2 linked regions of the Homo sapiens genome follow. The protein of the gene in region 1 interacts with the protein of each later gene in a pairwise test. Each region holds a gene or a part of one and is shown in the gene's direction. Other genes may lie near its edges. The genes, in order: PDZD8 and ITSN1.

The links.
Region 2: the proteins of PDZD8 (region 1) and ITSN1 interact in a two-hybrid assay, tested with the Homo sapiens proteins (one large-scale study listed by BioGRID and IntAct).

The regions. Positions count from the first base shown.
Region 1 is NC_000010.11:117,288,356-117,292,181, reverse strand, and holds part of PDZD8 (PDZ domain-containing protein 8), read left to right. Parts: intron 1-1,833; coding exon 1,834-1,996; intron 1,997-3,826. UniProt on the Homo sapiens protein: Molecular tethering protein that connects endoplasmic reticulum and mitochondria membranes. PDZD8-dependent endoplasmic reticulum-mitochondria membrane tethering is essential for endoplasmic reticulum-mitochondria Ca(2+) transfer.
Region 2 is NC_000021.9:33,774,821-33,778,646, forward strand, and holds part of ITSN1 (intersectin-1), read left to right. Parts: coding exon 1-58; intron 59-147; coding exon 148-288; intron 289-3,826. UniProt on the Homo sapiens protein: Adapter protein that provides a link between the endocytic membrane traffic and the actin assembly machinery. Acts as a guanine nucleotide exchange factor (GEF) for CDC42, and thereby stimulates actin nucleation mediated by WASL and the ARP2/3 complex.

The DNA.
Region 1 (3,826 bases):
CTTAAAATAACTTTACAAAATTTGTTAACACCCAAATTAAAGAGCAACTTCCAGTGAGGGTTCTTTTACCAGCGAATATCATTAGGTAGGAAAATTGAATTTCTGTCCAAGTGGGATTTATATATTAAAGCAGTGCAGCCAGTGATATATTTGGATATTAGGGTATTTGGCAAAGTCCCTCATGAGATATCCTTGAAGAATAGGACTTAAGAAATGTGGACTGGAGAATAATACAATTAGACTGATTTGTAATTGAGCGCCATAAACACTAATTGAATCCTTGTCAACAGCTGGGATGTAGCACTCTGCCTGTTTTTTTTTTTTAAATCAGTTGTTTGAATGAGGACACATAGCATGATGATGTTGTTGTTAATTCACAGATGATGTTAATCTAGTATCCACATTCCTGAAAATTGGATGGCAGGTTTATTTAGAAAACAAAATGATCTTGATGGGTTAGAATAGGACATCTCATTAACAATGTAACTTTTTTTTTTTAAATAAAGATGGGGTCTCACCATGTTGCCCAGGTTGGTCTTGAACTCCTGGGCTCAAATGGTCCTCCCACCTCAGCCCTCCTTAGTAGCTGCGATTACAGGTGTGCACCACCATCCCCATCATCCCCACCACATGATAACTCTTTTTTTTTTTCTGAGGTGGAGTCTCGCTTTGTTGCCCGGGCTGGAGTGCAGTGGTGTGATCTCAGCTCACTTCAACCTCTGCCTCCCGGGTTCATGCCATTCTCCTGCCTCAGGCTCCCGAGTAGCTGGGACTACAGGCACTGCCACCACGCCTGGCTAATTTTTTGTATTTTTAGTAGAGACGGGGTTTCACCGTGTTAGCCAGGATTGTCTTAATCTCCTGACCTCCTGATCCGCCCACCTCGGCCTCCCAAGTGCTGGGATTACAGGCGTGAACCACTGTGCCCGGCCGATAACTCTTAATAAAGTATAAATGTAAACTCTTTTCCTTTGCCTATTCCCAAAAAAGAAACTTGAAGAATACACTGGCCGGGTGGGATGGCTCACGCCTTTAATCCTAGCACTTTGGGAGGCTGAGGTGGGCGGATCACTTGAGCCCAGAAGTTTGAGACCAGCCTGGGCAACAGTGGTGAAACCCGATCTCTACACAAAAAAATACAAAAACTTGCCAGGCGTAGTGGTGCACGCCTGTAGTCCCAGCTGCTTGGGAGGCTGAGGTGAGAGAATCACTTGCGCCTGGGAGGTGGAGGTTGCAGTGAGCCAGGATTGTGCCACTGCATTCCAGCCTAGGTGACAGAGTGAGACCCTGTCTCAAAAAAAAAAAAAAAAAAAAAAAGGATACACCATACAAAATGGAGTTTCCAAAGCACATATTATGAATGACATAGATCATTTTCATTATATTTGAAAAAAGCAAGATTCAGAATTATATTCATGATTATAATTGTATTGACTACTATGTCTCAGTATTATTGAGACAAATCTCAATTTTGTGTTAAATATATATTAGAAAATATATAGAATAGTTCTAGATTGTATAATTAGGAATGGTTTTCTTTTTATTTTGCCTTTCTGTTTATTTCCCAATTTTCTACAATGAGCATGGAGCAAGGAGTAATAATAAAACACATTGAAGATAAAGTGTTTAATTTTTTTGATGATTTAAATGTGTAGCCTAAGGATAGTTAATTTATATTGTTACAGTAAAGATTTTCTCCTTCCTTTATTTGCCATGATAGAAAAGTCAGCATCAGCCATGGTGCTCTCTGCACATAACAGTCTGTTACTGTTTTTTTCCTCTATTACTAGGAATCCATTGAATCAGTTTTCATTTTTTTCCCCTTTATCAAAGGTTGAATTAATAAAAGGAAATTTACAAAGTGTTGGACTTACACTTCGTCTTGTCCAGTCAACTGATGGGTATGCTGGGCACGTCATCATTGAAACTGTGGCTCCAAACTCGCCTGCTGCAATTGCAGATCTTCAGCGGGGAGATCGACTTATCGCCATTGGAGGTAATTATGCTAATATGCATTATACTTTACCTTTACAGATAAACTACAAAGTAGGTGTGAGGTTTTTCCTTTCTTCCTTTTTCCTTATTTCTATAATATGCATATGTCACTTTTATAATGGAAATAAAGTAATAAACTTTATTATAAATAAAAATTCAAAGGAGGCCTTCAAAATACATTTAAAACATACATGCCATTTTAGTTCTAGTGTATAAATCTTTAAAATACTTTGTTTAGACCACTTTTATATAACCACTCTAATCCTTCCCTTCCCACCTTCTACTACTCTATTTATTTTTTCTTGAATGTGAAAGTAAGGGCAAATAAACAGGTTATCTTTCTGTACGACTACCACCATTGCTACTCTGAACCTAAAATTGGTAGTATTAGCACTACTGCCCCCATCACTTAGCACTAGATGATGAGCAGAAGAACCAACATTCCTTTTCCAGGAGGGCACATCTGAACTGTCCTGTGATCCTGTGTCATCTAAATGGCCAGCCATTTGTTAGTATGTTGTTGCTCAGAATTCAGCCCAAATCACTGGTGGAAAAATGTGTCACTTACATGCCTTCCTATCACTTGGATTGTTAACAGTAAAAACTCTCTGAAGATAGCAGGTTATTTGCTTGTATATAAATGTCTAAGCAGTAGGACTCACTGTGCACAGCAGTGAGGGGAAAGTCCAAGCCTTTTCAACCTTTGTAGTACCTGTCCCATCTATTCTAGGCTTGTTGAGAGATTTCTTGAACATATGGTTGGTCACAGTTGATCTGAAAAGGGCAATGTGATATTTTCTTTCACAGCTTAGACAATAAATAAGTTAGAACAGTTCCCAAATCAAGGTGCAGTTGTCCTTGGTTACATGTCAAAGAAACTCTGCCTTTGATTCAAATCCACCTTGACAATAAAATAATGAAAATTATTTAGTTGCATATCTGGGAGCCCAATTAAGTCAATATTTTCACATGGGAATCTCTGATCATGGCATAAGCAGTGCTTCTCAGACTTTCCCATGTATGCCAGTCACCCAGACCTGATGTTAAAATGTGCATTCTGAATCAGGAGACCTGTAGTGAGGCCCAAGATTCTTCATTTCTCACAGACTCCTCCCAAATGATGATGCTTATGCATAAACACTTAGGGAGGCATAAAATAGACATCATTCATTATATTAATATCATTTAATATTTTGGTTTTAGCTACAGGATAAAATTAATTTTTTCGGTCTTTTTTGGGGGTTGTGTTTCAATTACACAAGTAGTAAATACCTATTATCAAAAATAAATTAATTAACCTAAGCGATATAAATGTATACAGAGTGAAAAAGCAAAAGTCATCCCTTGACATCTAACATTTGTTAATTACAATAACAACAGGCCGGGCTCAGTGGCTCATGCCTGTAATCCCAGCACTTTGGGAGGCCGAGGCGGGTGGATCACCTGAGGTCAGGAGTTCGAGACCAGCCTGGCCAACATGGTGAAACCCATCTCTACTGAAAATATGAAAATTAGCTGGGCATGGTGGCAGGCGCCTGTAATCCCAGCTACTCAGGAGGCTGAGGCAGGAGAATTGCTTGAACCTGGGAGGCAGAGGTTGCAGTGAGCTGAGATCATACCATTGCACTCCAGCCTGGGCAACAAGAGCGAAACTCCATCTCAAATAATAATAATAATATGTATTAAGATGAAGGGCAGATACAATACACATTCATTGTTTTAAAAAAAAGAAAAACCTTGGAACATAACAGAAAAGCTTTTGTATGTCTCTTTTTTTGTTTTTTTGTTTGTTTGTTTTTTTCTGTACATAAATATATGCCTTTCCCAATTT
Region 2 (3,826 bases), on another chromosome or scaffold:
GGACATAGTTGTACTGAAAGCAAAGAAAAAGACTTTGGAATTTGAATTAGAAGCTCTAGTGAGTGAAGTTTGGTTATACTTTGAAAATATACTAAGATGGAACCATTAAAAACAGTAATAATTTTTATTATCTTTCATTTGTTCAAGAATGATAAAAAGCATCAACTAGAAGGGAAACTTCAAGATATCAGATGTCGATTGACCACCCAAAGGCAAGAAATTGAGAGCACAAACAAATCTAGAGAGTTGAGAATTGCCGAAATCACCCATCTACAGCAACAATTACAGGTGAGGAAATATGCCTCTTAAAAGCTATTATATTAAACTGGCATCCTTTTCTCTAATTCATTTCATTTACTTACTTATTCAGTAAACATTAAGCAACTGTCTTGTACTAGGCACTGGGAAGCAAAAATGAAGTAGACAGGGTCCTTGTGTGAAAAGTAGCCTGTCAAGGAGACAAACTCAGCAAATATTTACTGAGCACTGCTTCGGGCCAGGTGCTTTTGCAGTTTCTGAGGCTACAGCAGGGACAGACACTCTGTCTTCTGGGAGCTTACCCTCTGTTTGCAGGAGGAACAGAGACTAACAAAATAAAGTGTGTACTGTATTAGAAGATGAAAAGTGCTATGGAGAGTGAGTAGGGAAGGGAATAGAGAGTCCTAGGGATAGGAAATGTTGTGATTTTAACTAAGGTAGCCAAGACAGGTCTTTCTGGATGGTGACATTTGAGCAGAGACTTGAAATTAATGACAGGCTAAGCCATGTGGGTATCTGGCAGAGCAAGATCTAGGCAGGGAAATAGTGCCAAAGTCCTGAGGTCGTAGCAGGACTCTGAGATGCCAGTTACAGCAAGGAGACTACTGGGTAGAGCAGGTGGGAGCTGGATCACACAGAACCTGTAGTCCACCAACAGGACTTTGGCTTTACTGTGGTAATTACAATAAATAAGTACACTTAAGTATTTTAGGGGGTCATATGAGAGCTATATGTATACTAAATAGTTGGAGACATACAGAGCACTTTTAGTAGTTCTGTCTTCATTTTAAAGCCTATCCAAAGTTGTTATAATATCACCTGGTTTGGTATCAAGTGCTGAACTACAGGGGCATCAAATTCATGTAAATATTGCCTGTGGATGATCATATTTGCCTGTGATTCCTTTATGTTAGGCTTTTTCTCAGCATGATGTTTTTGAGATGTGTCCATGTTACTGAGTGAATGACTCTTTTGTTTCTTTTCATCACTGAGTAGTGTTTCCTTATGTGTCCATTCACCTACTGGTTGATATTCAGGTTCTTTCCAGTGTGGAACTTTTATGAATAAAACTGCAGTGAGCATTTATGTACAAGTCTTTATGTGGAAATGGTTTATTTCTCTTGGGTAAACTTTTAGGAATGGAACTACTGTGTCATGTAAGTGTATATTTAACCCCATAAGAAACTGTCAGGCTGGGCACAGTGGGTCACACCTGTAAACCCAATACTTTGAGAGGGCAAGGTAAGAGGATTGCTTGAGCTCAGGAGTTTGAGACCAGCCTGGGAAACATAGCAAGACCCCATCTCTAAAAAAAAAAAAAAAAAACTTAAAAATTAGCTGGCATGGGGGCGTTCACCTGTAGTACCTGCCTGAGGCAGGAAGACCACTTGAGCCCACGATATCGAGGCTGCAGTGAGCTATGATTGAGCCACTGACTGCCTGGGCCACAGAATGAGACCCTGTTCAAAAAAAAAAAAAAAAAGAGAGAGAAAAGAGAAAGGAAAGAAAGAGAACTGACAAACTGCAAAGAGTTTGTACCATTTTACATTCTGATCATTTAATTTGTATTTCCCTGAAGGCTAATGATGTTGGGAATCATCTTACATGTTTATTGGCGAGTATTTTTTACTGTGCATCTTCGTTGAAGTGTCTGAACAAATCTTTTGCCCATTTTTTATTGGGCTGTTTGTCTTACTATTTACTTGTAAAAGTTCTTTTTATATTCTTAACAAGTCCTTTGTCAGATACGTGTTTTGCAAATATTTTCTCCCAATCTGGCTTGGGTTTAATTTTTGTTAGTGGTATTTTTTAAAGGGCAGAAGTTTTAAATTTTGATGAAGTTCAGTTTACCGTTTTTTTTCTTTTGGTGTTCATGCTTTTTATGTTCTATCTGAGAAATCTTTGACTACCCCATGACTGCAAATATTTTATTTTCTTCTAGAAGTTTTTGGGGCTTAAAAAAATAATTTTTACAAGTTTTTATAAATTGAAAAAAACTTAAAATTTTAAGTTTCATAGTTGTATCTTATATGTTTAGGTCTATGAGCTATTTCAAGTTGATTTTTGCAGATAGTATAAGGTAAAGGTTGAGGTTTATATTTTTACATACTGATACACAGTTGTTATAGCACCATTTATTAAAAACACTGGCTTTTTTCCCATTGAGTTACCTTGGTAGCTTGTTGAAAATCAGTTGAACATATTTGTAATGGTCTATTCTGGACTCTATTCTGTTCTTTTGATCTGTCTGTCCTTTACCAGTACCTCACCCTGTTGATACCTAATTTTTGAAGTCAAGTGATACGAATTCTCTGTTATTGTTCTTTTTAGAATTGTTTTTGGTTATTCCAGGTCCTTAACATTTCCATGTACATTTTAGAATCAGCTTATCAGTTTTTACAAAAATGCTTGGAATTTTGTTGGAATTCCATTGAATTTATAAATCAATTTGGGAAGATTTGACATCTCAGCAATAGTAAATCTATGGCATAAATCTCTATTTTGGTAGTTATAAATTTCTCTCAGCAATGTTTTGTAGTTTGCAGTGTCCAAGTCTTGTAGATACTTTGTAAAGTTTATCCCTAAGTATTTTGTGGCTTTTGATGCTATTGTATATTGCATATTTTTATTTTAGTTTCCAGTTGTTTGGTGCCAGTATATGGAAATAGAATTTATTTTTGTATATTGACCTTATATCTGTGATTGCTTAACTAACTTCCTTTGTGTGTCTTACTTTGTTGACCAGAACCTCCCATACTATATTGGATAGAAGTGGGAAGAGCCTTGTTCCCTCTCGATGAAGGAAAGCTCTCTCACCATAGAGTATAGTGTTAACCAGGGTTCTTGTAAACACCTTTTATCAGGTTGATGGACTTCTCCTTTTGCTGAGGGTTTTTATGATGAATGGGTGTTGAAATAGATCATATGTTTTTTCCCCGCATCTATTGAGATAAGTATGTGTTTTTTCTTTCTTATTTTGTTAATATGATGAAGTACATGGTTGCCATTTGAATGTTAAATCAGCCTTCCATTCTTGGGATAAACCACTCTTGGTCATGGTATATTACCCTTTATTAAAATATTTCACTACATTCCATTTCCCATTATTTTATTAAGGATCTTTTTAAATCTGTTGAATTCAATTCAACAGAGATATTGGTTTTTAGTGTTCTTCTAATATTCTTGTCTAGTTTTGATATCAGGGTAATGCTGGCCTCAGAAAATGAGTTGGAAAATATTCCTTCCTCCTCTATTTTCTAAAAGTGTTTGTGTTGAAATAGCATTTCTTCTTTAAATTTTGGTGGCATTCACCAGTGAAGGCCTCTGGGCCTGGAGCTTTCTTGAAGACTTAATTATAAAATTCATTATGCAGATATAGGGCTATTCTGATTTTCTTCTTCTCCTTGAATCTGTTTTGATTATCTGTCAATGAACTTGTTTATATTATCTAAATTATTAAATTTACTTGTATAAAGTTGTTTATAATATTCTCTTTTTTTTTTTTTTTTTTTTTTTTTGAGACGGAGTCTCGCTCTGTCGCCCAGGCTGGAGTGCAGTGGCGCAATCT